Regions from separate parts of the Homo sapiens genome. Here regions 1, 3 and 4 are each linked to region 2. Evidence: fine-mapped expression QTL. A gene starts in region 2. Each other region holds a variant in brackets. All regions are shown on one strand. Distances are from middle to middle.

What was found.
Region 1: its variant is fine-mapped to the expression of APPL2 in pancreas (GTEx, PIP above 0.99).
Region 3: its variant is fine-mapped to the expression of APPL2 in whole blood (INTERVAL, PIP 0.96).
Region 4: its variant is fine-mapped to the expression of APPL2 in blood mononuclear cells (TOPMed, PIP above 0.99).

What each region holds. Positions count from the first base shown.
Region 1 is chr12:105,278,951-105,287,253 of GRCh38, reverse strand. No RefSeq gene overlaps it. Among named protein-coding and RNA genes, the nearest start is that of C12orf75-AS1, 44 kb to the left of the region's middle. The variant C/T (reference allele first, on the strand shown) is at 5,280.
Region 2 is chr12:105,234,029-105,241,831 of GRCh38, reverse strand. It overlaps APPL2 (adaptor protein, phosphotyrosine interacting with PH domain and leucine zipper 2), which reads left to right and starts at 5,658. Exons shown (of 21, transcript NM_018171.5): 1 at 5,658-5,873. The coding sequence starts at 5,820. RefSeq lists an enhancer at 5,275-5,775 and silencers at 5,640-5,779, 5,830-6,079.
Region 3 is chr12:105,180,567-105,188,869 of GRCh38, reverse strand. APPL2 (adaptor protein, phosphotyrosine interacting with PH domain and leucine zipper 2) reads left to right here. Exons shown (of 21, transcript NM_018171.5): 17 at 423-597. Among named protein-coding and RNA genes, the nearest start is that of APPL2, 51 kb to the left of the region's middle. The variant CA/A (reference allele first, on the strand shown) is at 3,950.
Region 4 is chr12:105,262,595-105,270,897 of GRCh38, reverse strand. No RefSeq gene overlaps it. Among named protein-coding and RNA genes, the nearest start is that of APPL2, 31 kb to the right of the region's middle. The variant C/T (reference allele first, on the strand shown) is at 4,894.

The DNA.
Region 1 (8,303 bases), 45 kb before region 2:
TAAAGCTATAATAATTTTAAAATAGTGGAGTTTTCTTTACAGATATTGATGTGTGAGGTGGGCATACTAATGAAATGCAATAGAAAGTCCATACATTGACTTAAAACTATGTAAGAATTGAGTATGTGATGAAGGTGACATTTTAAGTCTGTAAGAAGAAGAGAGATTAATTATTAAGTCTGGGACAACTAGGTAGCCATCTCCAAAACAATAAAGTTGAAGTCACACCTCATACCTTACCCCAGATAAATTAAGGATTTAAGTGTTAAAAAAAAAAACTTTGCAGGTACTAGATACAAAGTTAGGAGAATAGTTTTATAAATGTTGAGTATGAAAGTCATTATAAGTATGAAAAAATTCCCAGAAGTCAAGAAATGATTATTACATTCCATTTTCCAAAAGACAGGCAACAAATTAGTGGGAAATGTTTGAAACTCTAGACTGAAGATTAATTTTCCTAAAATATAAAGATTTCCTCAAACCAATAAGAATAACCTCAAAACCCAGTAGAAGAACAGGCAAAAAGAATAGCCTATTGCAAAAAAAAGAAAATACAAGTGGCCCTTAAACATATGACAATATGCTCAACTTTATTCATAAGAAGAAAAATATGTAAAAATTAGATCCACACTGAGATACCCTGTTTTCTCTGTCAGGTTAGTAAACTATATTAGTAAGGGTTTGAGGAAATAAGAATTCCCTCACACAGAGATGGGGAAAATGTAAATTGATAAATCTTTCTGGAGGCTAATTTGGCAATATTAAAATTACATATCCACATAGGCTTTGATCCAGCCATCTTACTTCCAAGGATTTTTCCTAGAGATATGTGCAAAATACTTACGTAGACAATTATTCATCATGGAATTATGGGTAATTGCAAAAGATTGGGAACAACTAAAAATCCCACCAATAGAAATCTGGTTAAATTGATTTTTCATACAGTAGTACCCTACGGAGACTTTTAAAAGATTGAGGAAGAGCTCTGTGTATTGATATGAGATGATTTCCAAGTTATACTGTTAAATTTAGAAAAGCAATATGTAGCACAAAAGGTACAACATGCTATTATTTGGGGGGAAAAATAGGATGGGTAGAAATAAGTGTATAGAATAAGGTTTATATTTGAATTGGTAGCATTATACCAATATCATTTTTATTGACTATATGCTATGCTAATGCAAGATTACCATTTCTGTAACTTCTTGTGATGTTACAAAAATTTTTTTGAAATATTTGCTATAAACTACTTCAAACTATAAAGTTATCTTTAAGGACAAATGTATATACCTATGCAGGTGTATAAGTATTTGCGTGTGAATGCATAAACTATCAGGAGGGGGGAATCCATGACCAACTGAAAACATTGATTACCTTTGGGAAGGGTAACTGGCTGGCTGGGGAGGTAACGGAGGATGTTTCTTTGTATGCCCTTGTGTTCTTTGTAAATTTTAAATCAGGTTTAAAAACACAGCTTATCAAATAAGGTTTTGAGCAGTGACAGAAAAAGAAGGAAGAGAAGCAGAAATCATAAATGAACATTCGGTTTCAACCCTGTGTCTCTCAGAAGGTAATCACCAGCAGTAAGAAAAAGTTTCTCCCTAAACTTCAGAAAGGAAGTGCCTACCTTCTCCAGTGTTCACTTTGTTCTTCCTTTGAAAATGATTTGCTGAAATAAGCATTTTTATAACAATGTGGTAAAAAGGAGTATCTAGCACAAGAATAAATATTAAAGAAATTCACAATCATCAGCAAGATCTAAAACTAAATGTTCCTCCTTTCCAGGGATACTGATAATTTTTAAATGTTCTTTTTACAGTTTGTCACATTATTGCAGGAAAAGCACTATGATTCTTTTGAAATTGTTTTCCAGCTTTTAAAATATAAGATACTCATATTCATCTCTTTGATGAATATAACTTAAGTGTTCCAAAAACAAGAAATCCATAGCAGTTAGAAGCAGGAAACTCTTGTGAAATTGGCAGAGTAATCTCAGGAATTGGAGAAGGGGTGGTCTTTACATATAAGTATTTTTCAAATTAAAAATTATTAAAGAGGTTATTTTTTCCTTTTTGCTGGCCGAACTTAAAAAAGTCAACTTTTATTTTATGCTTTAACTATGTTTAATAACTTATTTAGAGTAAGTAATTCTGGAATAATTCCCAGTACTGAGTCTATAAATTGAGGCTAATTCATTTGAACAACTGAAAGCAGTGTATGCTGATTGCTGTTTTTTAAAGAAAATTAAAAGAAAATTGCTTGTGTTAGAGAGTATTTCTTAATAATTAAGAAGTGATTTCTCAATCTCAGAAGTAGTACAGCAGAGGGATTTAAGAGCTCATGTTTGCCTTTTGCTGTTTTGCATTTTAAAAACGCACCCAAATTAAAACCCATGTGTAAATTGTTGGGCTTTTACATGTTTTTTGTGAAATTAATCTTTGTTAATTAATGACCATGTGCCTTACCCCAGAAAGAAGGAAGGATTCCATCATTTCACAAAAATTCCAAAGAGCCCTGGGTAGATGTGGAGCTGAAGGCACCCATCCCTCTCAACTCCCCAGCCTCCCAGCATCCTGAACCAACAACCCAACAACCCAGCTTCTGTGACTGGCACCTCCAATCCACTCAGTTGCACAGATCAAAACTGTGGGAGAGATTTTTGGTCTCTCTCTCTGCTTCACCCACCACATCCAATCAACCACAAAGTTCTTCTCAGCGAAGTTCCTATATAGACATGTCCATATTTGATATCCTCACTTTCCTACTTCCCATTCTGTATTCAATTTAGTCCAGTTGGGTTATTATCTCTACCACTTCTCCATTATCAAGGTCATTATCAAGATGTAGATACTCTACATCTAGCCAAAGCCTAGTTCCTTTTTCATTACCTTTTAGTTAACCTCTCAGCAACAGTTGACCATGCTGTCACTCTTGAAAGTCTTTTCTGAGCCTTTGTAAGATCACTCACCTGGACTTTCTCTTAACTCAGTGGCCACTCTTTCTCAGCCTTTTTATTTTGTTCTTCCTTTCTGTAAGGCTTCTATCTTTTAGGTAGCTCAAATTTCTATCCTTGGCCCTGTCTCTTCTCTACATTCTCTCCCTTGACTTCAAGTACCATCTCTATATTTATGATACTCAATTCCCAACCCCCCAATTCCAGAATCATATATCAACTTGGAAGTCCAGTAGGCATCCGAATTTTGTAGAACCAAAACAAAGCTATCTACTTTTCTACTCCTCTCTCTCCCCTACCAGTCAGCCCCTTACCTGCTTCCTCACTAAACCTTCCTCTTTTTGGTAAATTGCACTGTCATATTCTCAATTGCTCAGGTACAAAACTTAGAGCTTATTCTGATTTTTCCCTCACCCTAAAATCTTGCATCGAGTCCAGCCATGTATGTTGCTGACTCAACCTCCAAAATAGAACCACAACCCTACATCTCATCACCCAAGTTGAAACCATGATGTCTGGCCTCATCTTTGCAGCAATCTCCCAACGAGTTCCCCTGCCTCCACTCTTACCCTTACACAGTCCATCCTCCACACAGCAGCCAGAGGAGAGATTAGACTCCTTAACTTCTCCTTCTGGGTACTGCCAATGGTTTAGCATTAACCTTATAGTGGCATCTCATTGTGGTTTTGATTTGCATTTTCCTAAGGATTAGTGATGAATCTCTCTGTGCTTATTGGCTATCTGTGCATCTTCCTTGGAGAAATGTCTATTCAAGTCCTCCAATTAAGTAAATTAATTACAGTACATTAAAGTAATTAAGGTCCATTTTTTAATTGAGTTGTTTGTGTTGTTGAGATGTAGGAGCTCTTTATATATTCTGGATTTTAACCCCTCACCAGATACATGATTTGCTATTATTTTCTCCCACTCGATGGGTTGCCTTTTTCACTCTGTGATAATATCGTTTGCTGTTGTACAAGTTTTCTATTTTGATGAAAAACTATTTCTTCTTTTGCTACCTGTGCTTTTGATGTAATATGCAAAAAATCATTATCCAATCCATGTCATGAGGTTTTTTCCCTATGTTTTCTCCTAGGAATTTATTAGTTTGGGGTCCTACATTTAGGTCTTTCATTCATTTTGAGTTGATTTTTGTGTATGATCTTAGATAAGGATTCAACTTCCTTCTTTTGCATGTGGATGTCTGGTTTTCCCAGCACAATTTTTTGAAATCTGCTCTTTCCCCCATTGAATTATCTTAGCACCCTTGTCAAAAATTATTTGGCCATGGCCGGTCATGGTGGCTCACGCCTGTAATCCCAGCACTTTGGGAGGCCGAGGCGGGCGGATCACGAGGTCAGGAGATCGAAACCATCCTGGCTAACACGGTGAAACCCCGTCTCTACTAAAAATACAAAAAAATTAGCTGGGCATGGTGGTAGGTGCCGGTAGTCCCAGCTACTCAGGAGGCTGAGGCAGGAGAATGGCATTAACCCGGGAGGCGGAGCTTGCAGTGAGCCGAGATCGCGCCACTGGACTCCAGCCTGGGCCACAGAGTGAGACTACGTCTCAAAAAAAAAAAAAAAATTATTTGGCCATACAAGCAAGAAATTATTTCTGGACTTCCTATTCTATTTCACTGTCTTTATGTCAGTAATCTACTATTGATTATTGTTGCCTTGTAGTAAGTTTTAAAATCAGGAAGTGGGAGCCCTCCATATTTGTTCTTTTTCAAGATTGTTTTGTGTATTTGGCGTCCGTTGACATTCCATATGAATTTTAGGATGGGCTTTTCTATTTCTGCCAAAAGTATCATTGAAATTTTATAGAAGCTGCATTGAATCTATAGATTGCTTTAGATGGTACTGCCATCTTAACAATAATCACCCATGAACATGGATGACTTTCTATTTAGCCAAGCCTTCTTTAGCTTTTTTCAGCAATGTTTGATACTTATGTACAAGCCTTTCTCCTCATTAGTTAAGTTTATTCTTAAGTATTGTATTCTTTTTTATGCTATTAAAAAGGAAATTGTTTTCTTAATTTCACCGTTGGTATAAAGAAACAGAATTTTTTTTGTGCATTGACTTTGTATCTTGCAACTATGCTGAATTCATTCATTAGTTCAACACTTTGGATTTCTTAAATGAAATCTTTACGGTTTTCTAGATATAAGATTATGTCCTCTGTGAACAAGGGTAATTTTACTTCCTTTCTGATTGGTACTGTTTTTATCCTCACTTTATAAATTATAAACTGAGTATATCAGATAAGAATGCATTCAGTTGTACATAACAAAATTTACTGGGGCTTGACAAATGAATTG[C/T]TTATTTTTCTCACTGAATAAGGAGTCCAAAGTCCAGAGCTGATGCAGAAACTGCACTATACAATTAAACTACTGGACTCTAAAACAAACAGCAACAACAAACAACTACCAGGCTCCTTCTGTTTTCCCTTCCTGCCTTCTTAGCATGTTGACTTTCCTTTCCAAGCCACAAGGTGGTTGCTGCCCCTCCAGGATCATGTCTGCATCTAGGCAGGAAGAACAAGGAAGGATTTTCTCCTCCTAAGGATCTGCCTTATATTTGGTATGGATTATGTTCCCGACTTACCTCAGCTGACTCGCCTTTCCATCTCTCTGGTCATACCTGGGTTGCAAGCCCACCTTTAGACTAATCGCTGACCAAAAGGAATAAGATTTCTATGAGTATTTTTGACCAATCATGATTCATATCCTGGGGCTGGGATAGGGTATAGGAATACCCGAGGTCAAGGGACATCACACTAATATCAGAACAGATCTGTGTTCTGTTAGCACCAAAGAGGGCTTTTGGCAGGTGATATCAGTGGAGCTAAGGCACAGAGAGGTCAAGTGATAGACCCAAAATTCAAATTCAGACGGTTTAAAGCCTGCTCTCCTAACCAGATCAACAGAGGAACAGAAGGTTCTGTGCCCAATAAGCCAAACTGAGTTAATGATTGAGTAGCACTTGTTATCCTAGGACACTAATGAGAGTGGGGATACCAAAAGGCAGAGATATCAGAATCCCCTGGAGGCCTTCCTCTAAACTATGGCCTCTCCCCAGAAAGTTTGCCGTGATCCCCAAGTAAAAGTGTGGCCCACAGCCAACCCTCATTGGAATCAATGTAGTCTGAGTCACTGTTAACAATGGCTTTGTTGAATTTGGGAGGAGGGAGGGGACTAAGAACCACTCTGATAAGAAATATGCAAACTACAAGAATTCAGTTTTATGTCCTTTAACTGGTTTTGGGCGATTTGCTTTTTTCATTTTGTATTCTGATACTATTTCTTTAAAAAAAAATTCTGAGTCTTTGTTAAATTAAGTGGAAAAGGAATTTGTCTCTACTGAGTCTCGATACTTATGAAGATGTTTTAAAGAAGCAAATGTCTAAATATTAACCACTTTAAGTCCTTTTCTGGAGCAAAACAAATAACTAGTGTGTGTGTGTGTGTGTGTGTGTGTGTGTGTGTAATTGTTTCTGCATTTAGGATTGCTGAATTGAGATTTAGTTCATGCAGTTCAATTCAACAAACATTTACTAAGTGCCCCATACAAGATTCTATACTGGTTACAAAAATGAGTAGTTTTGCAAAAAAAGTTCAGGGAAATCTGTAAGTCCTTAAATTTGTTTGCAAAATTCCAGGATATTTGCTTAAATGATACATATATCAGTAAAGAGTTCTTCTTAACCTTCATCAGATTCTTAAGTGCTTCTGTGACACACAAAAGGTTGACCCACTGATCAGAATGGTCAGTCCCCAGAGGTGGGATGTGGCCACAGTAGTCCTTAGGCAGCAACAAGATGCATTACAAGGTGGGTGGCATTACTTTGGTTCCAGGAGAAACTTCCCCAGGGATGAAGGAAAATTCTAGCCACTGGACATAGACAAGAACATAGTTCAACCCCCGAGAGAAAAGGCTAGTGCGAGTTCAGCCACACAAGTCATGACTTACCTCTGCCAGTCAGGCCAGACACACAGGGTGGGTGATTGGAAGGCTAGAGTTGGATAGTTCCAGTGGTGCCCAGGGAGTCACTCAGGCTTAATAAATGCTCATTTGGGGGAACGGCAGAAATTCTGTTCTCTACTTGCTGTGCAAATGGGCGCATTTTATGTGCTATCAGGCTTGGTGAGCACTGACTTAGGAGCTGAGCCCATGGGTTGGAAATCTTAGGTAGAGCACACCCTTGGATCGCTCTACCTATTTCCAACCCATGGATTTTTAGTGGTGGTTGGCTTGTAGTATGGCGGAGATGCACAGAAAAATCTAATAACTTAATTACAGATAAGGGCTATTGTACTTGAGTTATTTGATTTTTCTGTGCATCTCGCCCTACTATATACTACATACTCCAAGGGTGAAGAGTAAGGAAGAGACCAGGTAAGCATGCAGAGAAGTTGGTGTAGAAGGGATAGGAGTTGATGAACTTAGCTTTGTTAGTGAAGTGAGACTTCCTGCAAGCCCTGACCATGCAGGTTTATATAGCCATTTAATCACCAGAAGCAGCGGTGAAGAAGAGAGAAGGCTGTCAGCACAGTACAGTGGGTAAGGCAGCACAGTGTGTTGATTACCAGCATGAACTCTGGCGCTAGACAGCCTGGGTTCAAATTCTGGCTCTGCCCCCTAGTGGCTGTTTAACATCAGGCAAGTTATTTAACAACTGTGCCCCAGTTTCCTTATTTGTAAAATGAGAGTATAAGGGTACAGTCATGCATCACTTAATGATGGATATTTATTCTAATAAATGCATCACTGGGTAGTTTTATCATTGTGTGAACATAATAGAGTTAACTTACGCAAACCTACATGGTACGGTCTCCTACACACCTAGGCTGTAAGGTAGAGCCTGTTACTCCTAGACTACAAACCTGTATGGCATGTGACTGTACTGAATACTGTAGGCAATTGTAACACAATGCTAAGTATTAGGTTGGTGCGAAAGTAATTGCAGTGATGGCAAAAACTGCAATTACTTTCTCACCAACCTAATATTTGTGTATCTAAACATAGAAAAGGTATAGTAAAAATATGATATCCTAATATTATGAGACCACTGTCATACATGCAGTTAGTTGTTGACGAAAACATTGTTATGCAGTACATGACTGACTTTAGCCCATAGGATGTGGGCTAAATAGGTTGTGATGATTAAACGGATTAATCTTCAAAAAGAGCCGGGAACAGTGTCTGACACAGGGTAAGCATTCTAAATCAAAATCATGATTAAGGCAGGGTTGAGAACTACCAGAAAGTCAAGGAGGTGAGGGGATTTAGGTAGATGTAGTGAATTCATTGATGCACCATATGGGCCAAGGTGGAAAAGGAAG
Region 2 (7,803 bases):
GACCAGCGTGGCCAAGATGCTGAAACCCCGTCTCTACTAAAAATACAAAAATTAGCTGGGCGTGGTGGTGGGCGCCTGTAATCCCAGCTATTCAGGAGGCTGAGGCAGGAGAATTGCTTGAACCCTAGGTGGCAGAGGTTGCAGTGAGCTGAGATGGCACCACTGCACTGCAGCCTGGGCGACAGAGTAAGACTCCATCTCAAAAATAAATAAATAAATAAATAAATATTAAAAAAAATTTAAAAAAAAAGAAAGAAAAGGAAAGGAAAGCATTTGTTGTGAGTCAGACACTATGTAGGCACCTGGGAGGTAAAAGGACAGGAATCCTAGGTTTGGGTAGTCTGAAGCTTCCTACTGAGCAGGCTTCCTTCTTCTCTTTGGGTACAGTGGGCAGAGCCCTGGCATTTAGAATTTGGGCCCTGTCACATCATTTGTTTGAGCCTCAGTTGTAACGTTTATCAAATGAGGATACTAATACTTATGCCTCACCTTCCTGTGCTCCAAGATGACTATTTTATGCCATCTCCTCTCTCCTCAAACCTTCAATACCATCTGACCATTATTGCTTTGAGCCGATGGCCTTGCTTCTTATCTCACTGAGAAAAATAAAAGCAATCAGAATAGAACGCCTTCATTCCTCCCATTTAATCTACCAACCTACTGTTCTTGTATCACTATGAACGTACTGTCCTTGCTTCTATCTAAGGCCATCCCTATCCCTTGTGATTTGTTTTTTGCATTTTTTTTTAAAGAGTCTCACTCTGTCACCCAGGCTGGAGTGCAGTGGTGCAATCTTGGCTTACTGCAACCTCTGCCTCCTGGGTTCAAGCGATTATCTTGCCTCAGCCTCCTAAGTAGCTGGGACTACAGGTGCTCACACGCATGCTCGACTAATTTTTGTATTTTCAGGAGAGACAGGGTTTCACCATGGTGGTCTTGAACTCCTGGCCTCAAGTGATCGACTTGCCTCAGCCTCCCAAGCCTATCACTTGTGATTTGGATTCTACTCCTTTTTGTCTGTTCAAGGACTTTGTTCTTGCAATTGTCACCTCTCTCTCATATCTTTAGCTTTTCCCCCACTCTACTGGATCATTCTCATCAGCATATAAATAATCTAAGAAATCCAATCTCTTTCAGACTTTTATGTTTTCTTTAAGCCAGTTGGAGTTAGGTTTCTGTGATTTGCCACTTAAAAAGTCTTGACTAATACAGGACATAGAGACAGGTGTGTATGGAAACAACTTGTGATTGGTAATGCCATTCTCATATCATAGGGAAGTAAACTGAAGCTCAGAAAGATTAAATACCTTGCCTAAAGTCTACAACTTTTCTATTTTAAAACAAGCAAACAAACCAAAAACCTCCCTTTTTTTAAATCATCCCCTGCAGTCACTTCCCCTTCAACCACTTCCCTTTATTGAAAAACCTCTTGAAAGAATTGTCTTTGTATTCCCACCATTGCTCTTGAACAGACACCATCTTGCTTTCAAATAAAATTGCTCTTATCAAAGTCTCTTACCAAATTCACCGAATGACCTTCCTATTGGCAAATTTAAAGGTCAATTTCTGGTCTTTATTCTTACTTGATCTCTTAGCTGCATTTGACATTGTGGATCAATTCATTTTTGAAACCTTTTGTCCCCTGGCTTTTAGTATAGTAGTGCCTCCAAGTTTCCCATTCATAGGGCTTCTAGGGTGGTCTATTAGTCTCCTGATATTCCTCCTACACCATTAGCTGCTGGATCTTGCTTGGGCCTCAATCCACCAAGCTTTCCTCTTTCCTTTCTGTATTAGATTCCTAAGAAATCTCATCTACTCTTTTGGTTTAAATAACGTCCCCATGTTGGTGAACTCATGGATTTATACCTTCAGCCCCAGTCTCCTCCTAAACTTGAGTGGTATATACAAGTACCCACATGAAACCTCCACTTGATTGCCTAACGGGCATCTCAATCACAACAGCCTGAACAGCACTATTGATGCGCCACCACCAACAACCTGCTTCTCCCCAGGGTTTTCTGTCTCAGTAAATCACAGGACCATTTGCCCAATGGCTTTCCCACTTTCTCTCACATACTACATCCAGCATATCCTGTCAGTTCTACTTTCAAAATATGTTCAGACTTCAACTACCTCCCAACATTTCCATACCCTCGACTTTGACCTATATCTCTCAAATCTCTTGCTTGAAGGATTGCAAAAGCCTCTTCAGAACCCAGAGATAGTCTTTAAAAATGTAAATCAGACCCTGTCATTCAGTTGCTCATATTTACAGTGGCTTCCTGCCATATCAAGAGCAACACCCAAAGTCCTTCCCCATGGACTCAGCGTCCTCTGTGAGCCAGTGATTGGCATCTCTTCAACCTCATCTCCTCCCACTCTTTCCCGCCTCGCTGTCCTTAGCCACATTGGCCTTTCTGCTCCTCCTCAAAGAGGAGCAAGCCTCAGGGCCCTCACACTTGTTCTTTCCTTCGGGCTGGGCTTCCCTGATTCAATTCTCAGCTCAACAGTTGCACACCTCAAAGAATCCTTTCCACTTCCCATGATCCTCTATTCCTTTACTAAAGGTTATCATACACTTATCAACTTGTATTTGTTTCTTATTATTTCCTCCATTAGAATATAAACTCCATTAGGGCAAGGACTACTTTTTGCTTCAGCCTATATCCTCAGCTTCTAGAGAAGAGTCTAACACACAGTCGGTGCTACCTAGTGAATGATTAACGGCAAAAGCAGCATTGTGCTATCAAATGAAATGAGATTCATGAAAACATTTTTTAAACTCTGGAGTATCAATCATGTATAAGTTATAATAACACATTATAGTTTAGTAAGTATTTATCAAGCAACTGCTTTTGTGCTAGGTAATGTACTAGGCACTCTAATTACAGAAATAAATAAGACCAAGTTCCTACCCATTCTAGCTGGAAGGTTGGAGGTGGAAACAAAGAGAGGTAAGTGTTATTCTAGAATTATCTCGGCAAGTGCTACTGAAGCACACTCAAGGAAAGGAAAATGTATTCTGCTTGGGGGGACAGGAGTAAATGAAGACTTCATCAAAAAAGTCACATTAAACTGGGATTTGATGATTGTGGTTGGGTTTGTCAGACAAGAGGCAGGAGAAAGGGCTTGACTGGCAGAGGAAAGAATCTCAATGCGTGTGCCCTATCATGCAGTTTGCTAAGCATCTCCCAAAACAGCTGCCTTCTTCACTCCTGCCTTTCTCTCTTACTCCTGAAGCCCCAGGCCTTCTCTGACCTGGCCATCCTGGGTCCTTTTTTTGTGTCTCACTGTGTCCTTTTCCCCACTGGCCTTCAATGGGTCACAGGTTACACCTCCATATAATTCATCCTCTCTCTCTTCAGACATCACGACAACTCCAGACTGTCCATCTTTATACTTCCTGTCACCAACTTCACAGCTGACCAGGGATTTCAGAGACAGTGGGGTGGATTTCTAAAATCCACCTGCATAATAGTTTAATAGGAACAGATATATACTCTTTAATGAAACATTTTTAAATGTTCATGTTGACATAAAAATTCCTCTTATGTAGTTTCTCACAGATTATCAAAGGAGAGGATATTTGCCTTCAGAATTTAAATGAGAATCAAACAAGTGGGAGACAGTGCTTAACACTGAGCAGTCTATATTTAATACATGAATGAATGATTGGATGAATTAACAAATGAGATAAATTAAAACCATTTATGCATGTGTTGTATTTCCAGATCTACTTTTGTAACTTAGTTGTTTTGAATTTGGGATAGATTTTCCCATAGAAACAATGTTGTAAACAGTTCTTAAGTTCCAAGAAATCCCACTAAGGCTGTTTAGCCCATAATGTAGCAAGAAAATGCAGAAAAGTAATGGGATAGCTTAAACAATTTTTGAATGTTGAATACTAGTATTTGAAGAAAAGTAACTTTAATTAGAAGATGAGGTGGTACATGAAAAATGCTGTGATTCCCAAGGGGCTGTCTGAGCCCTTTCAAGGGTTCTGAGGGCACTAACTTCTTGTAATGCATATTTTCAAATTAAAATGTGCACATTTATTTCCCTGGGTATAATACTATCCTTGTACTGTTCTCGCAATCAGGATGAAGGAAGAGCATGAGTCTGGCCGTGAGGAATTAGATTTCAGTGAGAAGAGAGTCTGGGACACTGGATGAGGTAAAATGAACTGAATGGCAGGCGGTATAAAATAGAGGAAAGGGAAGAAATATGGTGTGAGCATGATTCCACCTATAGGGAAGACAAGAGTATGGTGGAGGCAAGAAAGAATAGGGAAGAAAGAATACTGTGGAGGAAAATATGGTAGATGGAGGCCATAAAATGGTTCAGGTCAGGTTGGCGCTGGCCAGACCAAGGGAATAATGGCCTTGGAGTTTTCAAGTGATCAGGCAGCATGCTACTATACTAGACTGTCAGAGGTGTCAGCAATGCAGATTGGGTCTTGATATACCTAAGAGGTCTCTGCAGAATGCAGAATTTATATATTACCATATCCCCTCTGTTGATTTTGGTGACACACATACTGCATGATTTTTTTTTTTTTTTTTGAGACGGAGTCTTGCTCTGTTGCCCAGGCTGGAGTGCAGTGGTGCCCTCTCGGCTCACTGAAACCTCTGCCTCCCGGGTTCAAGTGATTCTTCTGCCTCAGCCTCCCGAGTAGCTGGGATTACAGGCGCATGCCACCACGCCCGGCTAATTTTTGTATTTTTAGTAGAGACGGGGTTTCAGCATCTTGGCCAGACTGGTCTTGAACTCCTGACCTCGTGATCCACCCATCTCGGCCTCCCAAAGTGCTGGGATTACAGGCGTGAACCACCACGCCCGGCCAGTCTTATTAACTTCTAAAGAAGGAACTTCAGAAACCCTTGCCTTCCGTGTAAAAAGGTGTCACGTTCCACTTGCCAGTCTTCTTCCATCCCTCTCCCTTCCTTCTTTTCTTCCTCTGGCGTTTACTAACTGACCCTGGGCAGACCACTTATTTCTCTGGGTCCCATTTTCTCATCTCTAAATGACAACACTGGAACCTAGATTATCTAGCCCTTCCAATTCTAAACATTTGATTATGAAATTCTCCAAAATCACAAAACATAAACCAGGAGGACGAGACCTAATTATGACCACATCAAATAGCTGTGGTTTCCAAAGTGGTTATTTCTGATTATCACAGACGAGTCAGTTATCCAGCTTTTCTCCTCTTTTCTTTGTTCCCATAGCATAGGCGACCTCTTTGCTCTCAGAGCTGTTTCAGGGGCGTCGAAATTTATCTAGAAAAAGTGGTGTGGGAAGTGTGGGTTTTTCCTTCCATTAAAAGAAAAAATCTGTTCGCTCCTTCAACTCAAAAGGCTTTCTGGGTAGCCATAAGCAGATAAAACCTTATCTTTCTACCCTCGAGTTCCTCTTTTGGACTTCATATGCATTGACTTGACGGACCTTCAGCACAGAGAACAAACACCCGAAGGGTTCCCTCAGCAACGGGACTGGCACCCAGAGCCCCCCGCTCCCCGCGAGCCGGCGAGCGCAGGCGGAAGCGCGGGCGCCACATTTCCGGTGTCGGGACCGGAGCTCACCACACTTCCGGTTTCCCTGCCGGGCGCGCCACACTTCCTGTTGATCCGGCTCGGCCGGGGGCTGGGCCGGCGGGCAGGCGGCGGCGGCCACTGGCCAGGCGTGGACGCGCGCGGGGCCGCCGCGGGCACGGAGTGGCCGCCGCGTCGCCTGAGCCCAGAGCCGGGGAGTGCTCTCGGCCGCCGCGTCTCCTGCCCTCTGTCCTTCCAACCCAGCCCTCGGCTGAGCCGCGCCGCACCATGCCCGCCGTGGACAAGCTCCTGCTAGAGGAGGCGTTGCAGGACAGCCCCCAGGTACCTCCCGCCGCTCCGGTGCCCCTCGCCCGCAGGGGTGAGGCCGAGGAGGCCCCTCCAGCCCCGGAGTGGAGGCCGCGCCCCCGGCCGGGCAGCCGCGGGAGTGCGCCCGGCCCCCTCGCGGCGCCTCCCACCGGGTTCTCTCGGGCTGAGGAGGGGGCGGGCCGGGCCCTGAGTCCTGAGCCGGGGCAGAGCTGTGGAACAGGGGAGAGAGCCCCGCGGCCGGAGTCTTGATGTCGTGACCCCCCTGCAAGCTCAGCTGCAACTGAGTCTGCGAGATCTAAACTTTGATTCCATGTAGTAGCTGAGTGCCTCAGGAAAACCACCTTATTGTGCCTTAGTTTTGTCGTCTGTAAAATAGGAATAATAATTGTGCCTGCTTCATAGGGTTGTTAGGAGAAGTCAATGAGAAATACCTGTAAAGTTGTCAGCAGACAATGTCCGGTACAGATAATGAGTCAGTCTTATTACTGCTACTCCTAATGATGTGATGAGACTTGTGCCAGCCAGAATGAGAGGCAGAGGGCCTGGATCTCTTTTCCGGCGGTACCAGGCCTCCTTTTGGCACCGTTTTCCCATTAGTGAAGAGAAAAATACAGTACCTGCCCCATTTGTCGCACAAGGGAACTTCATTAGCACACTCGAGATGAGAGTCAAGTCCTTTGAGCTCTGCAGATGAAAACTGGTGTGTAAATATAGCAAATGAGTGCAGGATGACATTAGTTCATAATTCAGCACATCTTTCCCCAGGGGTCTTTTGTTCTCCTTTGTTTAACATTTCTCCAGCTTCGTACCTACACTCCTGGTTCAGCATCCCGGGTTTATTTAAATAAGTGCCTTTATTTCCTAGTGTCTCAACTCTTGAAAACTTAGAATAAGATTAACCTATTTTCGTTTCACACTTTCCCCTCTCTTTTGGGGTTCCTTCCCTTTTTCTTCTAAGTGAATAATACTTCCCAGGATGATCCTTGTATGGATTTACCTACATCGACAGTTCAGAATAAGTCCGAAGGGCTGTATGCATAGGTGTCTTTTGTTCATTTTTTGTGATCCTCCTAGTGTAGATAAGTAAGGAACTGGAAGCAAGCTGTGTGTGTGTTTTTTGTTTGTTTGTTTTGTTTTTTGGTAAGTTTGCATCCTCTGGACGACTTTTTCAAGGCCTCCCTTTTTTATATGGCTGTAGACTCCTGGCATTTTAATCAGACTAAAGCCCTTGGTAGAAGGCATTTTGTCCATGTTCATATCTGTTGTGTGGAATCTGAAGATAGCAATGTGAGATTTTAAATGATCACTTTGAACAAGGATCTCTGTTTGCCTTGCACTTATGGAAACTGAGGTGCACAGAAATATCCTGCTTTTCTAACCTACATGGTGATGCCTAAGCCAGGTTACAGTGATTATACTAACTGATTCTTGATGTTGTCCTCACAAACAGATCATATTCTTAATTTCCAGCTCTAACATAAAGGAATATACACTGTTTGTGAGTGGCTTAAAGGATTTGCCCAGCTGTGAGGAAGTAGACAGGACTGTAGAGCAAGTCAGGAGACCTGGGTTCTAATTCTGGCTCTCACGCTCACTTAGGATGTGATGTGGGTGAGTCTCTTCATCTCCACCCTGTAGCTGGCTCAGTTTCCTAATCTACAGAACATCTACAGAATGAGAGACAGGGAGGGAGCAGGTGATCTTCAAGGTGCTTTAGAGTTAACATTGTCATATCTACATGGTGTATAACTTTGAACTTGTATGTGGCAGAGGAGGTTTAGAGATATTATCATTCTTATTTAATATGTTCCTTTTAATATAGGAAGTTTATTTGTCATTGCTTTTGAGACTTGGCCATCACCCTTAAGAGGGCTCTTGATGGTGCTGTTGTGCAGAATGGAAGCTGACTTTAAGAAGGTCTTTAATGATCATCAGAGCATATTTA
Region 3 (8,303 bases), 53 kb after region 2:
ACCCAACATGAGATCTTATATCCTGCAAATAAAATTTCTTTTCTAAGAGGACTTTATCAGTGGGCCAAAGTAATGAATTTTCTATTGTCTAGTGAACTCACTCTTTTCAGAGAAAAGGTACAATGTAGTCACCTAGAGTTTCAGCATTAGAAGGATGTTCATCTGGTACCACCATCATTTCATTTTATAGATGAAGAAAAGCCTTTCTAGTCTAATGAAGTAGTTCCAAACAAACTGACAAGATGTAGACAAATGGAAGACGCAGAGCTTTGGCAATATTGGGCTTATAAAAGTGGTATTGAGAAATTTTGGTAGAAAGTCCTCCACAGAAAGCAGGCAAAACTAGCACATCTGACCCTGGTATGCAGATCAACAGCAGCAGGAAGTAAATGAGATCCTGAGTGGAAAATGCTGTCTTCCAGATTCTCTTTTGCAGCAGATGTTTATAGTTCGGTTTTTGGGATCAATGGCAGTTAAAACAGACAGCACTACTGAAGTGATTTATGAAGCGATGAGACAAGTATTGGCTGCTCGGGCTATTCATAACATCTTCCGCATGACAGAATCCCATCTGATGGTCACCAGTCAATCTTTGAGGTACGTTCAGTTTTATTTTCAGACTTTCTTATGGCTTCAGCTAATTCCCCTTTTAAGGCTAATGCACCCATCTGAAATGTTAGTACTGGAATGAAGAGACTACTCTTGCTTTTGCCCCCACTACTTTTTACATAAGATAGATAGCCTAGAAAGTGCTCCCTTAGAGACAAGAACTGGTATCTTCAAAAATCCAGTGGTGAGTGAATACTGTTGTTCACAAAGATGCCATCACACTAGACTTATTCTCTATATTATAGCTCAGAGCTTGAAAATGGAAGTTTTTTGGTTTTGCTTTTTTTTTTTCATTTCTGAGAGTACTATTTATAAAAAATAATGGAAAAAAACTTAAAAATCTGCCTAAATAACTTGGCCATCACAGAGAGAGCAGGCCATATTAACTACATGATTTAGTGTTTCAGGTAATACGATCTGGGTTTCAGATATGACCAAAATCCTGGTTATGAACATGGGTGTATGATACTGTAGCCACAGGTAGCATCTGCAGCAAAACTAGCCTGAACTGAGATGTGTTTTCAGTGTTAAATACATACCAAATTTCTAAGATTTAGGATGTAAAACATCTCACTAATTTTTTAGGTTAATCACATGTCTGGTAATATTTTAGATATACTGGATTAAGTAAAATTAATTTTATCTGTTACTTTTCACTTAATGTGGCCGCTGGAAAAACTTCGATGACATATAAGGCTTCCATTACATTTCTAAGGGACAGCACTGCTTTAGAGCCAGAATGTCTCAGTTTATTCCTGGCTTCGGCATTTCTTAGTTATGTGACCTTAAGCAAATTTTTGAGCCTCTGTACCTCAGTTTTTTCAGCTGTAAAATGAAAGTAACTATTCACACCCTCCACTGTTGTCATGAGGAATAAATGTCATGAGGAATAAATGTGCTAATATATGTAAGACATTTACAACTCACTGGCACATGAAAAGTGCTCAATGAACGTTAGCTTCAAAAAAGGTAACTAGGACTATAGCAAAAATTAGGATATAGCTTCTTCCATTCATTAAGCCCATCCTTTTCATTTATTATGAACCTTATCTGAGAATTAAGTTCTTATTAATAAAACCTGTTCTTTCACTATGTCCTGGACCTTTTACAGAAATGGGCTCATGGTTCTTATAATCCTATTGGTCCTGGAATAATTTCCACCAAAAAGATCAAAGGAAAATATATGTAAAAGTACTGTGAAAAACCACAGCACATCAAAGTGAAAAGAAAAACTACAGAATGGGAAAAAAGTATTCACAAATTCTATCTAATATGGATGTAGTACACAAAATATACAAAGAACTCTTATAAAACTCAACAGAAAGACAACCCAATTAAAAAATGGACCAAGGACTTGAAATAGACATTTTTCCAAAGATCATATACAAATGGCCAATGAGGACATGAAAAGATGCTATGTGTTACTAGGGAAATGCAAAACAAATCCACAATGAGATATGTCACTCCATATTAAGATGGCGTGCGCACGCATGCACACTGTCTCACAGATGTTTATATATATATGATATATATGATATATATATGATATGATATATGATATGATATATGATATATATATGATATATCATATATATGATATATATGATATCGATATCATATATATGATATATATGATATATATATGATATATATATTTAATGGAAAATAAGCGTTTAGCAAGGATGTGAAGAAACTGGAACCCATTGCTGGTGGGAATATAAAATGGTTCAGCTGCTGTGAAAAAATAGTTTGGCGGGCTCCTGGGTAGTTACCCAAAAGAATTAAATACAGGTGTTCAAACAAAAACTTATACGCAAATGTTCATAGCAGTCCTTTTCGTGATATCCAAATGGTGGAAATAATACAAATGCCCAACATCAAATGAATGGATCAACAAAATGTGGTAGAGTTGAGCATTCCAAATCTGGAAATCTCAAATGCTCCAAAATCTGAAACTTTTTGAGTGCCAACTTGATGCTCAAAAGAGATGCTCATTGGAGCATTTTGGATTTTGGGATGCTCATCCTGGTAAATATAATGCAAGTATTCTAAAATCTGAAAAAAAAGCTGAAATCCAAAACAATTTCAGATACAGGATACTCAACCTGTATATATATATGATGGAATACTATTTGGCCTTAAAAAGGAACAAAGGACTGATAAGTGCTACAACATGGATGAATGATGAAATCATTGTGCTAAGTGAAAGAAGCCAGGTACAAAAGGCAACATACTGTAGGGTTCTGTTTATATGAAATATCCAGAGTAGGCAAATCCATAGAGACAGAAGACAGACTAGAGATTGCCAGAGGGTGGGAGGAGGAATGAGTAACTGCTTAATGGGGATGGAGTTTCCTCTGGGATGATAAAAATGTCCTGGGACTAGATAGTGGTAATGGCTGCACAAAGTTATGAAGACACTTAACATCACTAATGATAAATCTGACGTTATGCATACGTCACCACAGTAAACATACCCCTGCAGTGGAATAGGTTCTGAGACCATTTAGAGGTCACACAGAAAATTAGAAGATTTAAAAAGAAAAATTGATTCCCAGACAAGGTGCCTGAATAGGAACAGCTCCAGTCTGCAGCTCCCAGTGAGACCAACACAGAAGGCAGGTGATTTCTGCATTTCCAACTGCGGTACCCAGCTTATCTCACTGGGACTGGTTAGACAGTGGGTACAGCCTATGGAGGGCAAGCAGAAGTAGCGTGCGGCATTGCATTACCCAGGAAGCACAAGGGGTCGGGGAACTCCCTCCCCTAGCCAAGGGAAGCCGTGAGTGAGGGACAGACCTATCCAGCCCAGATACTAGGCTTTTGCCACTGTCTTTGCAGCCCGCAGACCAGGAGATTCCATCGAGTGCCTACACCACCAGGGCCCTAAGTTTCAAGGACAAAACTGGGCGGCCATTTGGGCAGACACTGAGCTAGCTGCAGGAGAATTTTTTTCGCACCCCAGTGGCGTCTGAACCTCAGCGAGTCCCAACTGTTCACTCCCCTGGAAAGGGGGCTGAAGCCAGGGAGCCAAGTGGTCTTGCTCAGTGGATCCCATCACCACGGAGCCCAACACACTGAGATCCACTGGCTTGAAATTCTCACTGGCAGCACAGCAGTCTGAAGTTGACCAGGGATGCTCGAGCTTGGTGGGGGGGAGGGGCATCCGCCATTACTGAGGCTTGAGTAGGTGGTTTTCCCCTTAGAGTGTAAAGAAAGCCATCAGGAAGATCATACTGGGCTGAGCCTGCCGCAGCGCCATAAAACTGCTGTAGCCAGACTGCCTCTCTAGATTCCTCCTCTCTGGGCAGGGCATCTCTGAAAGAAAGGTAGCAGCCCC[CA/A]GTCAGGGGCTTACAGATCAAACTCCCATCTCCCTGGGACAGAGCACCTGGGGGAAGGGGTGGCTGTGGGCGCAGTTTCAGCAGACTTAAATGTTCCTGCCTGCCAGCTCTCAAGAGAGCAGCAGGTCTCCCAGCACAACGCTTGAGCTCTGCTAAGGGACAGACTGCCTCCTCAAGTGAGTCCCTGACTCTGGTGGTTCCTGACGGGGAGACACCTCCCAGCAGGAATCGACAGACACCTCATACAGGAGAGTTCCAGCTGGCATCTGGTGGGTGCCCTTCTGGGATGAAGCTTCCAGAGGAAGGAGCAGGCAGCAGTCTTTGCTATTCTGCAGCCTCCACTGGTGATACCCAGGCAAAGAGAGTCCGGAGTGTACCTTCAGCAAACTGCAGCAGACCTGCAGAAGAGGGGCCTGAAGGAAAACTAACAAACAGAAAGCTATAGCATCAACATCAACAAAAAGGATGACTACACAAAAACCCCACCCAAAGGTCACCAGCATCAAAGACCAAAGGTAGATAAATCCACAAAGATGAGGAAAAAGCAGCACAGAAAGGCTGAAAATTCCAAAAACCAGAATGCCTCTCCTCCTCCAAAGGATCACAACTCATTGCCAGCAAGGGAACAAAATTGGACGGAGAATGAGTTTGAAGAATTTACAGAAAGAGGCTTCAGAAGGTGAGTAATAACAAACTCCTCCAAGCTAAAGGAGCATGTTCTAACCCAATGCGAGGAAGCTAAGAATCTGGATAAAAGGTTATAGGAACTGCTAACTGGAATAACCAGTTTAGAGAAGAACATAAATAACCTGATGGAGATGAAAAACACAGCACGAGAACTTCGTGAAGCATACACAAGTATCAATAGTCAAATCGATCAAGTGGAAGAAAGGATACCAGAGATTGAAGATTAACTTAATGAAATAAAGTGTGAAGACAAGATTAGAGAAAAAAGAATGAAAATGAGTGAATAAAGCCTCTAAGAAATATGGGACTATGTGAAAAGACCAAACCTATATTTGATTGGTGTACCTGAAAGTGACAGGGAGAATGGAACCAAGTTAGAAAACACTCTTCAGGATATTATCCAGGAGAACTTCCACAACCTAGCAAGACAAGCCAACATTCAAATTCAGGAAATACAGAGAACACCACAAAGATACTCCTCGAGAAGAGCAACCCCAAGACACATAATCATCAGATTCACCAAGGTTGAAATGAAGGAAAAAATGTTAAGGGCAGCCAGAGAGAAAGGTCACATTACCCACAAAGGGAAACCCATCAGACTAACGGCGGATCTCTCTGCAGAAACGCTACAACCCAGAAAAGAGTGGGGGCACACATTTAACATTCTTAAGGAAAAGAATTTTCAACCCAGAATTTCATATCCAGCCAAACTAAGCTTCATAAGCAAAGGAGAAATAAAATCCTTTACAGACAAGCAAATGCTGAAGGATGTTGTCACCACCACACCTGCTTTACAAGAGCTCCTGAAGGAAGCACTAAATATGGAAAGGAAAAACCAGTACCAGCCACTGCAAAAACATACCAAAATGTAAAAACCATCAGCACTGTGAAGAAACTGCATCAACTAACAGGCAAAATAACCAGCTACCATCATAATGACAGGATCACATTCACACATAACAATATTAACCTTAAATGTAAACAGGCTAAATGCCCCAATTAAAAGACACAGACTGGCACATTGGATAAAGAGTCAAGACCCATCAGTTTGCTGTATTCAGGAGACCCATCTCATGTGCAGAGACACACATAGGCTCAAAATAAAGGGATGGAGGAAGATTTACCAAGCAAATGGAAAGCAAAAAAAAAAAAAAAAAAAAAAGCAGGGGTTGCAATCCTAGTCTCTGATAAAACGGACTTGAAATCAAAAAAGACAAAGAAGGGCATTACATAGTGGTAAAGGGATCAATGCAACAAGAAAAGCTAACTATCCTAAATATATATATACCCAATACAGAAGCACCCAGATTCGTAAAACAAGTTCTTAGAGATCTACAAAGAGACTTAGACTCCCACACAATAATATTGGGAGACTTTAGCACCCCACTGTCAATATTAGATCAACAAGACAGAAAATTAACAAGGATATTCAGGACTTAAACTCAGCTCTGGACCAAGTGGAACTAACACACATCTACAGAATGCTCCATCCCAAATCAACAAAATATACATTCTTCTCAGCACCACGTCACACTTATTCTAAAATTGACCACATAATCGGAAGTAAAATACTCCTCAACAAATGCAAAAGAACAGAAATCACAACAAACTGTCTCTCAGACCACAGTGCAATCAAATTAGAACTCTGGATTAAGAAAGTCATTCAAAACTGCACAACTACATGGAAACTGAACAACCTGTTCCTGAATGACTGCTGGGTAAATAAATAATGAAATTAAGGCAAAAATAAATAAATTACTTGAAATCAATGAGAACAAGGACACAACATACCACAATCTCTGGAACACAGCTAAAGCAATGTTTTTATAGCACTAAATGCACACAGGAAAAAGTGGGAAAGATCTAAAATTGACATCCTAACATCACAATTAAAAGAACTAGAAGGTTGGGCACCATGGCTCATGCCTGTAATCCCACCACTTTGGGAGGCCAAGGCAGGTGGATCACCTGAGGTCAGGAGTTTGAGACCAGCCTGGCCAACATGATGAAACCCTGTCTCTACTAAAAATACAAAAAATTTGCTAGGTGTGGTGGCAGGCACCTATGTAATCCCAGCTACTGGAGAGGCTGGAGCAGGAGAATCACTTGAACCCAGGGAGGTGGAGGTTGCAGTGAGCCGAGATCATGCCATTGCACTCCAGCCTGGGCAACAAGAGCAAAACTCCATCTCAAAAAAACTGGAGAAGCAAGAGTAAACAAATTCAAAAGCTAGCAGAAGACAAGAAATAACTAAGATGAGAGCAGAACTGAAGGAGATAGAGACACGAAAAACCCTTCAAAAATCAATGAATCCAGGAGCTGGTTTTTTGAAAAGATTAACAAAATTGATAGACTGCTAGCCAGACTAATAAAGAAGAAAAGAGAGAAGAATCAAACAGACACAATAAAAAATGATAAAGGGGATTATCACCACTGATCCCAGAGAAATACAAACTACCAACAGAGAATACTATAAACACCTGTATGCAAATAAACTAGAAAATCTAGAAGAAATGGATAAATTCCTGGACACATACACCCTCCCAAGATTAAACCAGGAAGAAGTTGAATCCCTGAATAGACCGATAACAAGTTCTGAAATTGAGGCAATAATTAATAGCCTACCAACCAAAAAAAAGCCCAGGACCAGATGGATTCACAGCCACATTCTACCAGAGTTACAAAGAGGAGCTGGTACCATTCCTTCTAAAACTATTCCAAACAATAGAAAAAGAGGGACTCCTCCCTAACTCATTTTATGAAGCCAGCATCATCCTGATACCAAAACCTGGCAGAGACACAATAAAAAAACACAATTTCAGGGCAATACCCCTGATGAACATCAATGCAAAAATCCTCAATAAAATACCAGCAAACTGAATCCAGCAGCACATTAAAAAGCTTATCCACCATGATCAAGTTGGCTTCATCCCTGGGATGCAAGGCTGGTTCGACATACGCAAATCAGTAAATGTAATCCATCACGTAAACAGAACCAATGACAAAAACCACATGATTATCTCAATAGATGCAGAAAAGGCCTTCGATAAAATTCAACACCCCTTCATGCTAAAAACACTCAATAAACTAGGTATTGATGGAACATATCTCAAAATAATGAGCTATTTATGACAAACTCACAGCCAGTATCATACTGAATGGGCAAAAACTGGAAGCATTCCCTTTGAAAATTAGCACAAGACAAGGATGCCCTCTCTCACCACTCCTATTCAACATAATATTGGAAGTTCTGGCCAGGGCAGTCAGGCAAGAGAAAGCAATGAGGGTATTCAAATAGGAAGAGAGGAAGTCAGATTATCTCTGTTTAAAGATGACATGATTGTATGTTTAGAAAACTCCATCGTCTCAGCCCAAAAACTCCTTAAGCTGATAAGCAACGTCAGCAAAGTCTCAGGATACAAAATTAATGTGCAAAAATCACAAGCATTCCTATACACCAATAATACACAAACAGCCAAATCATGAGTGAACTCCCATTCACAATTGCTACTAAGAGAATAAAATACCTAGGAATACAACTTACAAGGGATGTGAAGGACCTCTTCAAGGAGAACTACAAACCACTGCTCAAGGAAATAAGAGAGGACACAAACAAATGGAAAAACATGCCATGCTCATGGATAGGAAGAATCAATATCGTGAAAA
Region 4 (8,303 bases), 29 kb before region 2:
GGTTCCAGTACTCACTGGAATTTGGTCTCCCCCTCCCTACTTCACTCACCGAAAAAGGATGACTACAGATGTGAACTTTCACAAGTCTGGGATTCATGACACCTTATGTGGAACTGATTAGTTCAAAGACCTCAAGCAGAGAGTCTCTCCTTTATTTTCTCAGTAGGTCTGTGAGTTAAGGAGAGGAAGGTTTTATTATTGCTGACATCCATCCTAAAGAAGAAAAAACAGGCACAGAAGATGGTGAAACTTTTCAGGGTCATACAGGGAATCCTTATGACAGCAAGTCTTTCTGTAATAAACTATTGGCTTGCATGCTAGAAGGGACTTGTGGCCCCAGAAGCAAAGCCTAGACCCTGGCCTTCCTCCTTCTCACCTTCCTACTAAAGTCAGGGGCCTGAATGGGACCTTAAAAACAGGATCAAAATAGCTAATATTTATTAAGTTTTACTCTGTGCTTTATGTACATTACATCATTCATACCTCTCTGAAACCTTCTGCAGTAGGTACTATGTCCTCCAGGTAAGAAGAAAGGAAAATAGAGATTCAGCGTGGTTAGGAAGCTTGCTCAGGATGACACAGCTAGCTGGAAACAGAGCTGGAATTTGAATTTGGCCAGCCTTGCTTCTAATTTATACTCTTAACCTGGCACAAATCAGCCATGTCCAATGTACAAAAGGGTTATGTTTTAATTTGTTTGCTTAGAATTGGAACATGTTTTCTCTTATAAACAATTTTTAAATGGTAGGGCTCCCAGATCAGCCCACAGAGGCCTATTTATGCCTTGATGTTGTTCAAATTCACCTATTTGCAGAAAAAAATAGCAGGAACAAGATGTTTCAATTGATGATAATGAAAGTAAATATGAAAGCAAATACAATGAATAAGGAACATTTTAAAAATCTTAAATATCTATGTTGGGAAACTCCAAAATCACTAGAAGAGGTAAATGAAAATTTTGGGAAAGCTTCTGAAAATTTTTCCCAACCAATTTCAAGTACTTTAGAGGTGATTACTGCTGGCCATTTGTTATGAATTTCCTCTTTTCCGATCCAGATGCAACAGCATTAGTCATACACTCATCAAAAATATAAAGGCTGTTGTCTTTCAGTTTTGCACCCAAAAAGAGAGGTGCGTGATATAAAGAAAATGCATGAACTTTGAAACCCAGCAGACAGGGATTAAAAATCAAAATTCTGACAGATAGAGAAGCAATCAGAAAATCTCAGTCCCACTTTAGCAGGGCTTAAGTGAGTCTGTAAGTGGAAAGCTATAAGTTTGGGTTGTCTGGTCATTCCTCTGAACAGAATAGGGTATAAGACCTTGGGTATCACACGTACAGACAGTTCGAAGAATTGGGGTGACTAAGTAAAAAGGCTAAAATTAAGAAAGATTAAAATGTATCATGAGAAACAAAACATTGAAATGAGTTAGGAGAAATTGCATGTACAAAAATCAACTCTGGTTCCAGGCTTGAAAGAAATCATTCTACGAACAAAGTAGGTATACTAATGAATGCCCAGAGGAGACCCACTGAACTGGTAGCTTTTCAAGATATCCCTCGCTGCAGTCAGGCCATAGGAGTGTAGGATAAGAAGAGACTGTAAAAAGTGAACCAGTACATTTCTTGGTTCTGGCTCAAACTGCCCTTACATCAAACCAGAAACCAAACCTTGGTCCTTTACTTAAAAATACCCAGATGATATTGCAAAACCTTTCTCAAGAACAACTGTTAGAAAGTGACATTCTTTTGAAAACTCAATAACCATCAACTTTTGTTAAATATTTTGCCTTCTTTTAGTTTATACTCTTGCCAATTGGACCTTTAGTAATGTTGACTGGAAGATTGATTGACTTTAAAATCCAAATCAAATTCTGAATCCTAACATTTTACATCCAACCAAATGCAGCTATTATCCATCCTTTTTTAATACCAAAAAGTTTTTTTAATACAAGATTTTTCTCAGTATGTCAATAATATCTCAGTAAAAAAAGAAAGACCTGTAAAATTTCAGTATCTTTTGTATGAAAGGTCACTTTTTTAAAAAAGGTGTTATTTTTCCATTTGAAAAATAAGCACACTGGTCAATCAACAGTTTATATCTGGTCCTTTTAGAGATTTTGCAAAACAATGAAGATTTTCTTTTTTTGACAACATTTTTCTTTCCATAAAACAATTATTGTTCAGGGGCAGATTTCATTGTTTTAGCAGTGGAGTAAGCCACAGCCCCAAACTGAGAGGAGAACGTGGAGGTCCTTGAGGCATCTTGAGATAAACAGTTCCCTTGGAAAGCTACAGCACCTTCTGTTTCCTCATCTCCACTGCTAGGAGAGGAGAGTCACTCTCCCACTAGTGAAAAAGCCAGACTTGGGTCTTGTTTATAGGACCAAATCATAGCCTAAGTAAGAGCAGGGAGAGCCAGGAAGCCATCTGACAGCTACAGAAGTTTTCTCTTGTATTACTTTCTTGAAAGTTTCTTAAAGCCCAGGGAATGCCAATCTAGATCCTGTTTACATTTTATATGCTCAATAACGGGGTGATGATCTGATATAAAAATCAGTCTTTTACAGTGTGGTCGGTAATATGTAGCCCTCTCGGGTCTAAGTGAGCCTTGCTAAAGCTACATTCAATGAGCGCAGTCTCTTATCTCACTACTCCAAGAAATATGTGTGTGTGTCTTTATGTGTACACACAAACACAGAAACACACACAGACTCACACGCATATATATAAATTGAAACTATGTGCCAGGGTTACTTGACACACATTTTTTAGTTGATGTTCACAGCCACCTCATAAGCTGGTGTTAATTCTTAAGCTTTAATACCGAGTCTTAAGAAAGGTTACAAATTTGCTGAAGATCTTATAGCTGGTAATGGTGGGGCTGGGATAGGAACCAGATGAACCTGGATGATTGCAGTGGTTAATGTAGCAGCTGTTACCAGTGTCCTGCTTACAGTCTTCACCGACGCTCCAGCTGATGACACAGCTCCCAGTGTGGGCCTCTAGGGCCTGGAGGCTCTTTTTGGAACCATGGAAAGCTATTCTAACTGACATATGCTTGTGCAGAGAAGCACCAGGAAATGACCACAGCCTGTCTGCACTCCAATAGCCCTCCAAATGTATCTCCCCTAGCCACTTGCTACTCAGGAAGAATTATTCTGAGATGTGTTTTTTACGCCATTTTTTAGAACATCCCTGTGAAATTACATTTCAATTGCCTACAGCAGTAGTTGGTTTAATAATGGAGCCTTGGCCAGGCACAGTGGCTCACACCTGTAATCCCAACACTTTGGGAGGCCGAGGCGGGTGGATCACCTGAGGTCAGGAGTTCAAGACCAGCCTGACCAACATGGTGAAACCCCATCTCTACTAAAAAATACAAAAATTAGACGGGCATGGTGGCAGGCGCCTGTAATCCCAGCTATTCTGGAGGCTGAGGCAGGAGAATCACTTGAACCTGGGAGGCAGAGGTTGCAGTGAGCCGAGATCGCGCCAATGCACTCCAGCCTGGGGTGACAGAGCAAGACTCTGTCTCAAAAATAATAATAAGAAGAATAAGAATAAGAATAAGAATAAAATAATGGAGGCTTTACTAGCTTCCTTTCCTGTGTCACTTCCCCGTTTCCTACCAGTATTCCCTGCACTTCCCAAATAAACGACTTATACTCAAATTATTGTCTCAGGGTCTGGTTTGGGAAGAACCCAAACTGAGACAGTCACACAACCCAGTTCAGATATATAGATCCATAACTATGGCTTTCCAAAGATTTCCTTTTGGGGTTTTACAAAGGCCACAAAATGAGGAGTGCAATTGAACACAATAGAAGGGAGAACTATATACATTTTATTATTCAGTTAATACAGTTCTATCACAAACCACCACTTGTTGGGGTCTGACTATCATTTTCCTATTCCCTCCTCACAGAGGAAGTGCAACCCTAAGAAAAGAACCCTAAGGAAAGGATGGTCAAGATAAGTCTTTTTCTTCTGGTCTTTGGGCTGGAATCATTTGTTCTGCGGATGTTCTGTGTCTACCACTCTGACATGCTGGGATGGGACTTCCTGCATGGGACTACTTATTCCAGATCTCTGCTCCATGGACTTTTTCAAGCTTTAATTTAAAGGGTTTTTAAAACAGAATTTATTTTTTAGAGTAGCTTTAGCTTCACAGCAAAATTGAATAGAAAGTACAAAGAGCTCCCATATAGTCTCTGCCCCCCACAACACAGCCTCCCACACTATCAACACCCGCACACTGGAGTGGCTACATTTATTACAATGGATGAGCCTACATTGTCATCTCATTATTGCCCAAAGTCCATAGTTGACACTCTTGGTGTACATTCTATGAGTATTGGCAAATGTATAACGACATGTATCTACCATTATAGTATCATACAGGACAGTTTGGATTCCCTAAAATTTCTGTGCGTTCTGCCTCTTTATTCCTCCCTCCTCGCAACCCTTGGCAACCACTGGTACTTTCACTCTCTTCATAGTTCTGCCATTTCCAGAATGTCACATAGGTGGACTCATACAGTATATAGCCTTTTTCAGATGGGCGTTTTCACTTTATAATATTCTTTGAAGTTTCCTCCAAGTCTACTCATGGCTGGATAGTTCATTTCCTTCAAGCGTTGAATTATAGTTCATTGTCTAAATGTACCCTGGTTTATTTATCCATTCGCCTACTGAAAGACACCTCAGTTGCTTCCAAGTTTTGTCAATTATTATTAAAGCTGCTATTAACATCCACGTGCAGGTTTTTGTGTGGATATAAGTTTTTAATTCATTTGGGTCAATACTAAGGAGCACAATTGCTGCATCATATGGTAAGAGTATACATAGTTTTGTAAGAAACAGCCAAATTGTCTTCCAAAGTGGCTGTA[C/T]CATTTTGCATTCCCACCAGCAATGGATGAGAGTTCCTGTTGTTCTACATCCTTTCCAGCATTTTGTGTTGTCCGCATTTTGCATTTTGGCCATTCTGATAGGTGTGTAGTGGTATCTTATTGTTGTTCATATTTCGGCACCATTTTTTACATCACTTACATTGCTGAGGAAGGCTAGCCCTACAAAGTGTCAACGATGTACTACTTATCCCAGAGGGGGTGGCTTCTCTCTCTATTTGCTTGAGGACACAGCTCTTGCAGCTCCCCTGTGGAGGGGAAGGGATCCAATTCTATTACTTTTGGGAAACAGTGTCACTTGCTGGTGGGACTCATGAAAGGTCCCTCTCTGGGGGCTGGTTCTGTAACACTTCCAGGTAATGTCACTGACTACTTCCTGGGACCACAGAAGTTACTGTTCAGGGCTTTCTTACCCATTTCATTTTTAGTCCCTTTCTTGCTAAGCATGCCATGAAGGCCAGTGGTTTTCAATCTCATTTGTCTTGATCATTTGACAAATAATCAAGTTTTCTAACGATTTACACTTTGTTCTTAAGTTTAAAAAGATGCAAGATTATCTTTATAACTTTATATTTCACCTGTTTTCCAAAACGCTTTCTTTAGTATGAGGGAAAGGGATGGAGTAAAGCCAAATGGGAGGAACCTAGAAATTTCCATAGCACATGGGAGTGTCATGGGGAGAATTCTGAGAACCTCTGGGGCAGGCTTTTGTCTTACTGGGCAGTGCTCAGCATTTGGAAAAGCTGATGATGAGGTGGGGGCAAGAGGTGGATGTGAATGCAGAGGCTTAAAGTTTTACCAAGCAATGACCTAATAGCAATAATTTTTTTTTTTTTGAGACAGAGTCTCACTCTATCCCCCAGGCTGAAGTGCAGTGGTGCGATCATGGCTCACTGAAGTTTCTATCTCCTGGTCTCAAGTCATCCTCCCACCTCAGCCTCCTGAGTAGCTGCAACTACAAGCGCACACCACCACACCCAGCTAATTTTTTGTATTTTGTGTAGAGACATGGTTTCATCATGTTGCCCAGGCTGATCTCCAACTCCTGGGCTCAAGTGATCCTCCCACCTCCGTCTCCCAAAGTGCTGGAATTACAGGCATGAGCCACCGTGCCCACCTGCTAGCCACTATTCTAAGAGCTTTGTATGTATGATTGTATTTAGTACTCAAAACAGTAGCAGGTACTTTTACTATCACCTCCATTTTGCAGAGAGTTTAAAGAACTTACCTGTAGCTCCAGTGGTGCAATCAGTTAGTATATGGTACTCTTAAGAACTTACCAGACAGCACAGAGATACGGACTGAATCTAGCCAGGCTGATCCAGGTTCTGTGTTCCTCAATGTGCCACATCACCTTGATGCTGAGACTCATCTGAGACTTTCTTAGTGGCATTTCCTCACCCCACGCCGCCTCCTCTGTTAATAGCATGATATTATTAGGTTGGCACAAAAGTAATTGAGACTTTTGCCATAAAAGTAATGTATCCATTCACCTACTGAAAGACATCTTGGTTTCTTCCAACTTTTGTTAATTATTATTAAAGCTGCTATTAACATCCATGTGCAGGTTTTTGTGTGGACATAAGTTTTTAATTCATTTGGGTCAATACCAAGGAGCACAATTGCTGGATCATATGGTAAAAGTACGTGTATTTCTGTAAGAAACAGCCAAACTGTCTTCCAAAGTGGCTGTATCATTTTGCATTCCCACCAGCAATGAATGAGAGCTCCTGTTGCTCTACATCCTTGCCAGCATTTGGTGGTGTCAGCAAACCTGCTCTCCCCTCCATTCTATTAGATTGGTACAATTACTTTTGCAATTACTTTTTGCAATTACTTTTGCACCAACCTAATAGAATGGAGAGGAGGGCAAGTTTCCCAATGACTGTCCTCACTCACCCGTGTATTTATTCATTCATTTAACTGACAACTTCTGATCAAGCTCCAATTGTGTGCTGGGTACTCTGCTTAACCTTGAGAATACAGCAAGGAATGGGACAAAGTTCCTTCTACTCTCATAAGAAGTATATCTTTCATGTTGGAAACCAACAATAAACATATACATAAATATGGAAACTGTGATGGTGACAAGTGGCGGGAAGAGAAGAAACATACACAATAGAGAGTGTCTGGGAACTACTTTAGATTCAGTGGGCTGAGACCTGAGTCACAAGAAAGGCTTCATGAGAAGATCTAGGTTAAGAAAGCCCCAAACAGAAGGAAAGGGAGCCTACTGCGTGTGTTTGGAAACACAATAGGGTGGCATTGTTGGAGTGAAATAAGGGGGCCCGGGGCCCCACCAGGTACAGCCCTACAGGCCATGGAGAGGACCTTGGATTCTACAGCATGTGTAATGGGAACATGGGAGGGTTTGAGCAGGGGAGTTAGATGATCCACATACACCTCATTTTTTAAGGTTTTCGTTCCTTACAGGTGCAGTGGCTCACGCTTCTCATCCTAGCACTTTGGGAGGCCAAGGCAGGAGGATTACTTGAGGCCAGGAGTTTGAGACCAGCCTTGGCAACATAATGAGATCCTGCCTCTACACAAAGATTTAAAAATTAGCCAAGTGTAGTGTGTGTGCCTGTAGTGCCACCTACTCGGGTGGCTGAGATAGGAGGAGTGCTTGAGCCCAGGAGTTCGAGGCTGCAGTGAGCTATGACCACGCCACTACTCTCCAGCCTAGGTAACATAGCAAGACTTAGTCTTGCAGAAAGATAAAAAAAGTTTTCATTCCCTGATTTCACCTGTAGCAGGAGTTGCCAGCTGGTTGACAGAGACCTTTCTGCCTGTGTTAGTGTTTCGTGTCTTATTCAGTTGATCTTCAAATGGGTAGCTGCCACCATATTCCTTTTCCTACTGATTTCCAGGATTCCCAGCTAGGCAGAATCTGAGTGGTCCAACTCTCAATCTGTACACTGCTCTTAGGGCCCCAGAGAGCCACAAATAGACTGCAAAGCTGTCAGCCAGCCCCTAGGTTGTGCCCAAATTCTGTCTGGCCTGTGTGTATGTCGGCGTGTGGAGAGGTTGCTCTGCATTCCCCAGATACCCAAAGAGATCCCTAAGCCACAGAAACATTAAATCCACTGCTCATCTGCATGAGAAAAATGCAATGAGGGAGAACCCCTGACAAACAACTCTACTTGCAAAAGTAACACCTGGGATCATATCGAGTCCACATAAAATGCTTACAACTATCATATAGATTTTGGAGATGAATGTTAAGTGCTCGACAAATATTTGTTAAATGAATAAATGAGAAATTATCCAGCTCCCCATCCCCTGCATATTTCATGGTTGAGAAAACTGAAGCCCAGATGGGTTCCATATTTTGCCCAAAGTGACATATTTAGAATGTGGCAATGTTGAGCCTCAAGCCAAGATCTTTCAAC